Homo sapiens: one gene and its partner. The protein of the gene in region 1 interacts with the protein of each later gene in a pairwise test. Each region holds a gene or a part of one and is shown on either strand. Other genes may lie near its edges.

The links. Proteins that work in one complex are often made in the same cells at the same time.
Region 2: the proteins of TRMT61A (region 1) and TRMT6 interact in binary tests that used the Homo sapiens proteins (3 or more experiments, as listed by UniProt).

The regions. Positions count from the first base shown.
Region 1 is NC_000014.9:103,534,885-103,537,573, reverse strand, and holds the end of TRMT61A (tRNA (adenine(58)-N(1))-methyltransferase catalytic subunit TRMT61A), read right to left. Parts: 3' UTR 501-2,689; downstream 1-500. UniProt on the Homo sapiens protein: Catalytic subunit of tRNA (adenine-N(1)-)-methyltransferase, which catalyzes the formation of N(1)-methyladenine at position 58 (m1A58) in initiator methionyl-tRNA.
Region 2 is NC_000020.11:5,943,762-5,948,686, forward strand, and holds part of TRMT6 (tRNA (adenine(58)-N(1))-methyltransferase non-catalytic subunit TRM6), read right to left. Parts: intron 2,773-4,925; coding exon 2,645-2,772; intron 1,154-2,644; coding exon 1,044-1,153; intron 493-1,043; coding exon 401-492; intron 271-400; coding exon 187-270; intron 1-186. UniProt on the Homo sapiens protein: Substrate-binding subunit of tRNA (adenine-N(1)-)-methyltransferase, which catalyzes the formation of N(1)-methyladenine at position 58 (m1A58) in initiator methionyl-tRNA.

The sequences.
Region 1 (2,689 bases):
AGGAGCAGCTGACACCCCGGGGCTTCCTGAGGGAGGGGTACTCTAATCTCGGCTCTAGGGCAGTTCCCAGGACTAGGACCCTCCAAGCAGCTGAGTCAGAGCCAGGGTCTGGGACCTTCCAGGGCTTGGGCAGCTGGGAGTCATGTGCCACTGTCTCAGTGCAGGACAGCAGGGTGAGCGGGGAGGAATTGCCAGGGAAAATCTGAGGGCCACAGGCGAGTACACACTGGGCCAGGCAGGGAGTTTCTGGTGAATCCGTGCCCCATGATGAGCCCGTGCTGCTGACTCGCGCTGACCATCCGGGCCTGCTCATCGGTCACTCACGGCCATGGGCCCAGCTCTACCTCTGAAAGTCAGGCTCCCCATCACAGAACTGGGGCGCTGCTTGCCTTCTGCTCCTCTGCTATGGGGACTCCTTCGGGACATGGTGTGCAGGACTCTCCCGCCTGGGCATTAGATGTCTGGGGAAGCATGCTGAGAAAAGGACATTTGAAGGGGTCTTGAAGGACATACAGGAGTTTAATGCTGGCTCCAGGCCACGTGAGGATCCAAGCTGAGGGAGTGGGGTGAGGCCCAGCTGGGTCTAGAGGGCCATACGGTGGGGGTGGATGCCTGGAGGCTCAAGGTCATCATGGGGGCCTGTGTGCAGGGCAGAGCAGCAGGGCCGAGGGGATTGACACAGCAACTCTGTCCCATGTGACAACTAAGGGTGGGCTGGGACCTCCCGCTCTCCATGTGCGGACCCTGGTGACTCACCCAGGGCTGCCACCAGGGCAACCAGCCCCGGCTGGAAAATGGGCACAACCTGGACCCTACGGTGCCTGAGGCCTATGTGTCCTATAAACCATGGAGCTGCGCCTCAAAGAAACACCTCCCGGTGTCCACCCATCAGACACCATGCAGGCCTTTGCTGTGGCCAGGAGGGGCAGGGCAGGCTTGGGGGAACTGAGATCTCAGGGGTGTGCGTCACCCAGTTCATGACACCCCAGGGACAGCCTGACCCCAAAGCTCCTGGCATTAGGGTCACCCACTTCCATGTTGAACCTGACTGGGGGCCCCTCCTCTGTGCCCCAGGTGAGTAACAAGGTTAGAAGGGAAGCTGGGTCCTGGAAGGAGAGGACAAGCCCTCGGAGCAGGGCTGAGCAACTCTCAGGGACACAGGCCTCCCGGACCACATTAGCCACAGCCCCCGGTGACCCACAGTGTGACACTTCGCAGGGACCAGGCGGCCTGGAGTGGACCCTTCCTTCAGGGGCGCATACAAGTAACCCAGGCAGCCACACTGAATTCCAGCCCAGGACTGTGGAAGAAGGCCCAGCACTCCTGGACCACCCCAACCCCAGGAAGGAGTGGCCTTTTCTGCAGCCAGATGGGGGTGGCCACACATTTGCCCCTTTGTCCTGGAGACTGGAGCGCCTATCATGCCAAACCAGGACAGGGAGGAGCAGGGACCAGGGGCAGAGCGCAGGTAGGGCTGGCCTAGACAGCAGCTGGGGGTGGCCTTGGCTGCTAGGGATCACTCAGAACAGAGGGGGACGGTACGTTTATTGCTCATCACTCACACTTGGGGCCAGGCCCCTGCTAGCATAGCACTCAAGGCCCCCAGCACAGGGGAAACAGAGGCTCCCAACAGCCACTGGCTGCCTGGGCAGAAACCCAGGCCCCCTAGGCACCAGCGGCAGCTCCAAGGGCCCCATGGCTGACACAGGCACTGCTCCTTCCTTGAGGCTGTCAGACACCAGGGCGGGCGAGGAGAGCCCCCAGCCTGGGCGTCCTGCCCTCTGTCCCCACTTTGGGAAATGCCCCTAAGCTTAGCCTTTAAGAGGTGATCACATAGGCACTGTCCCTGGGTGGTGTCCTGAATGCACCTCCCCTACCCCACACCGTTGTCACTGTGGAGGGACCTCCTCCATGCCCTTGGCTTCTGTGAGGGGTAGGGGTACCCACATAGTTCCGGGACTCACAGGCTGGCATTCACACCCCAGCCCCGACACACTTGCCTGGTTGCCTGCGGCAGACAACCCACTCTGCCGCTCCTCTCCGCAGCGCTGCCTGGCCTCAGCGAGTGCAGCCCATGTCAGGGGCTCTGGCTGGGTGGGGGATGCCCCGCCTCTTGGACATGAGTGGACGAAGGCCTGGGCTGAGCTCAGTGCTGTGACATCAGCCAGGAGGCCAGAGAGCAGGGTCACCTCCCTGGTTCCTGGGCTGGCCTGGTCTCCTAGCGCTGGGGAGAGCAGGGCAGGGATTCTGGGTCAGCTCACCCCAGCTTCTGGCCAAGGCTGGAGCCTCGGCCCGGGGACTGGAGAAGCACGAGATGGTCTCAGGCCCCGTGGGGCAGCCAGGGCCGTGGGGGCCCAGGGGTCAGACGCAGCGTGGTCTCAGGGTCAATGCCCCCCTCCCTCCTCCACCCCCTTCCTGCTTAGGCCCACCTGGGAGGGGGTCAGACTCCCCCACCTGCACCCTTTGGCTTCAACACCCAGGGGAGCCTGTGGCAGTGGATACTTCATATTGGCAACAAACAGCAGCTGGGATGGGCCACAGGGCTGGACAGGAATGGCTGAGGCCCAGCCCCAGCACTGCTCCTCCATCACAGCCGCCCTTCCTGCTGTCCCACTCTGGCCACCCAGGAGGCCCCCAAGCCCCACCCCACCGTCTGTGTCTGGCAGGCATCGCTGACCATATAAGGTGC
Region 2 (4,925 bases), on another chromosome or scaffold:
TGCTTTATTAAAATTGTGTTGATAAGATTATTGATTGCTTTGGAGGTGACAGTAAAAGGACTTACAATTTATGAGGTAGGAGGATACTTTATGCAGGTGAGCAAGCTTTTTCATTTTACTTAAAATCATGACTTTCTTAAAGACATATTTCCCCCAATTATACTTTTGAAAGGAAACAAAGCGTACTTAATTTTTCCAGGTTCTCTTGCATAATACATAATTGAAAGAATACGGGTGGATGGCTTCACAACAGTAATGATGGCTTCATATCTGGGGGAAGAAAAAACAGAACGCTGATTTAAAAAAATGACTTAAAATATTTTATTTGTAATAAAATGTATATTTTATAAACATATAAGAAGTTTAATATTGTGGGCCTTTTAAAATAAAAACTACTTACTTTTTTTTCTTCTTTTTAATATATTTATCTTGGGCAAATTCTGTCTTGTCTCGGAATGTTGTACTATTTTCAATTAACTGCTGAACTATTTCCTATAAGAAAAGGAGCAAGTAGATTTTCTGAAACTTTACTTTCACAAAACAAGTAATTTCCAAAGGCTTCTTACCCAAGAATGGATCCAATGGTCTGATTCTCCAATCCCTTTTCCACAGAAGTCCAAATAGATGAACTTTATATTTCTATACTCTATTTGGAATTTATAATAAAATACAAGTACTTTATAACTCCACTTAAACCAACGTAAAAGAACAGAGATATCCAACAAAAGGAGAAGAGAGGTAAAGGAAACTAATTTCTGAAGACACTGGCTGAAAACATTACTGAAAATGAACAAAGTTAAATCCTGATATGCACTGTTATTACATTCTCTACCACTGACATTAGTAATGTCATTCACTTATATTCCTGTATATAAGACATAAAATCTTTGAAATGTTGAGTAACATGTACATTTCAACCTATTTCTATCAAAGCTATAACGTTATTTTTTTGTTTTACCTTAGGTACAGTCTGCTTTAAAAACCCAACAGTTTCCTAAATGCCAAACAGACAAAAACAAAACTAAAAATCCTTTGAATATTACCTCTCCTTTAATGCCCTTGTCCTTCAAAGCTTTTATGTCATCTTGAGTAAGTTTCTGAGATTTCCCATCATCAACTATATTTCGATTATCAGTGCCCGCTTCTTTAGTCTCTAAGGAAAGAAATTGCTCTATTGACATTTATGGTCTGAAATTATTTGACACTTTCTTTTTCTGAGTTCATATCCACATCCAGTCCATCAGCCACTCAAGTCTGGCCTCCCAGCTGCACTGCCCCCATCACACTATCCTTTCCTGCCAAAACTACTCCAAGCCTCTAAGTCATCTTCCTGCTCCCAGTCTTGCCCCCCTACTATCCACCTGGATGCCAGAGTGCTCTTTGTTTAAATGCAATTTGACTCATCTACCCCATGCTTAAAACCATACAGTGGCTTCCCATAGCAATAAGAATACACTCCAAAGATGACCTGCAAGGTCATAAATGATCTGGCCCCTGCCTATCATTCCTGGCCTGATCTCTTGACACTTTAGCTTCAGCCACAATGGCCTTCTTTCTGTTCCTTGAACACACCCAGCAAGGTCCCACAGCAGGCTTTTGGCACCTGCTGCTTCCTCTGCCTGGAAGGTTCTACGACAGATGTCTGAGTGGCTGGATCCTTTCTATCACTTGAGGCTGAGCTCATTCTCTTGCTTTACCAAATTAGTACACGCCCCTGCTTTATTATCTTCATAGCATGTGTCACTTCACCATCAGAAATCATGCTGTTTGCTTGTCTACTTGATTATTTTTGGTGTTCCAACTGGTAAGCACATTTTATACGACAGTCTATCTTATGAACTGCTATAATTGCAGCGCCAAATTATACCTGGCATATATTTGGTGCTTAGTAAAAATATGGATATTAATTTAAATGTATCTAAATAACAGGTTTGACTCAAAACTTTAACAGTATTTAACTTCAAATAATTACTTGTGTTTTAATTAATAAGATACTCTCAATGTTCATTTTAATAAATATAATTTTAATTAACAATAACAGCTTTTGGACAAGAGGTTGTTAAGAAATAATAATAGTAATAGCTAAAATTATGGGCCCTTACTAAAAGCAAGACACTATTCAGAACTTCCTATGAGTCATATCATAGAACACTCAATACAACCTAGGCATTAAATGTGTTTATGACCCTATTTTACATATATAAGGATATAAGACTCACAGAAATCAAATAAGTTGCCCAACGGTACAAGGCAAGTGATGAAGGTAGAAATTGAACTTAGCTGGATCCAAAACCAGACCTCTTAACCTCTACACCATATGCTAACCACCTCACAGCTGTTACATAACTTCTGGGCACTGAAAGAACTTTACATTATGTTCTTGCAATGACGCAGCAACGACTCATAGGATTAAATGCCTGGCCCAAGAACAGAGAACCATTTAATGGTGGGCTGGAGCCAGAATCCAGGTTATCTCATGGCCAAAGGCAGTACTTGCTTCACTCCACTGAGCTGCAGTTCTTAGATTATGAGTTAAGATTTCTTTTGGGATAGCATGGCCTAGCACTTGGGAATTAGGTGGAGGCTGAGATGTTTCTGACTAGTCAGTTGGAGAGCATCTATTTCACGCATCCAAAATGTGCACCTGCAGTAGGCTCTTCCCTCTTCTTCTTGGGCTGTAGACTTCCTCCACTGGTCACTTCAAATGCAGTTCCATAACTATGGCCAATGACGTTATCCAGGTAGAACCACTGTTTTTCGAAAGTTACTTTTCTAGGGAAAAAAAGTAATCAATTAACTGAATATCTTTTCTATCCAGTACAGAAAAGACATGTTCACTACAGTTTATTTCAAAAGTGGTCTCCACAATGGATGATCAGCAGCATTATCTCTGAACATAAAGCAACAAAGGAACTAGAGAGAACCTGGTTGGGATAGAGACGTAAAATTAATGAATAAGCCACAAGAACACTGAATTTTGGAAAGGGGAAGCAAAGACTCATCGAAGTAACAAGGATTTAACAAATTTCTTGGGCTTGGTCTGATCGGCCATTTTATTTGAAAATTATCTAATAAAAGCAAATTATACTTGCAAATAAACACTGACAATCTACACACTTGGAAATGGAGCCTAACACTGACAATGCTCTACTGAGGACCAGGCAACTTGAGGTTTCCTATGACATAGATTTTTTATCTTATTGCAATTTAAAAGAGAAATCCCACAGGAACACAATGCTTTCTTCTCAAAAGAAAACTAACATCTGCTGAGTGCCAACCAGGGGCTAGGCAGTGTGTGCGAGGTGTGATTCACACTTTTTGATTTAATTCTCACGGTAATCCTGGGACATAGCTCTTTCCAGAAGAGCAATCCGAGGCCCAGGGAGAAGTATCTTGTCCAAGATTCACAGTTGCAAGGTGTTGTTGGAGCTGGGATTCAAATTCAAATCTGTGTCTGACCCCAAGCCTCATTCTTTCCACTATACCACACGGTCTACTCCAGCAAAGACCTAAGGACGGTAGAAAGCCCACCTAGCTTCAGGACATGGCCCATGTGCACAGAACACTGAATTCTGGGAATCATGTGGTGGTTAATTCTGATTGTGCCCCATCCCACTCCTTCTCTTCCTTTCTCTGTGCCACCAGGAAGCTGATTACGACAGAATATACTGCCACATCACCCACGCTCCCGTGTCAGAGGCTTACCACCATTGCTGGTCTCTGGGTGTGTCACCTTTATTGGTTCCCTAAATCGGCCACACTTTTGAGTCACATCTTCATTAAAGCTTACTCAAACCATCTGAGGGAAATCCTGTATGATCGTAAGTGATTCAGATATGGCCAATTCTTGTTATTTGCTGGGTCCCTAGATACTTACATACAACAGAATGTAACAGACACTCAAAATATTTGCTAATGTAAACCTCCTCAGATGTTGCAATTCAGCTCAGCCCAGATGTGCACCCCCTATCCTCATCCTTTAATCACCTAGGTGCTTTGAAACACTGGATCTGGCCAGGTGTGGTGGGTCACACTTGTAATCCCAGAACTGTGGGAGGCCAGGTGGGTCACTTGAGTCCAGGAGTTTGAGACCAGCCTGGCTGACGGGGAAAAACTCCGTCTCTACAAAAAATAAAAAAATTAGCCAGGTGTAGTGGCACACACCTGTAGTCCCAGCTACTTGGGAGGCTGAAGCAGGAGGGTCACTTGAATTCAGGAGTTTCTCTACAAAAAGTACACAAATTAGTTACTGAGGAGGCTGAGGTGGAAGATTGCTTGAGCCCAAGAGGCAGTGGTTGCAGTGAGCCAAGTTCACGCCACTACACTCTAGCCTGGGGGACCGAGTGAGATCCCGTCTCACAAAACAAACAAACAGACAAACCAAACAAAAACACTGGATCTGAGATGGGTGGGTTTACCTCTCTGAGAGCCTATGTGATATGCAGAGGGGATGATGCGTGTCACTTAAAACTGGCTGGTTTGACAGGTCACTGCCCCAGTCGGGAATGTGGGGCCCCGTTAGAGGGATAAGGAGGCCACATCTTTACTGGGAAGGAGTAGGATTTGCAGAGTCTACTTCTCAGAGAGCCTGGACTGTTTTTTGCCCAATCAGATGAGTGTAGCCCCAAGGGTGATGAGGGAGTCTGACCTGGGATGCAGCTGAGCTGAGAGAGTCATTTCCTAAATAAAATGGAAACTGCCACTATGACTTCTGCGAAGAAGAGGGCCTGTTGAAAAGTATTTCCAAATAAATGTTTAGGGCAGTGGTCTCCAACCCTTTTGGCACCACAAAAGGGGAAGGTCAACTACTGTTCATGCCTGTAATCCCAGCACTTTGGGAGGCTGAGGTGGCCGGAATTACTTGAGCCCAGGAATTGGAGACTAGCCTAGACAACATAGTGAAACTCTGTCTCTGCAAAAAAAAT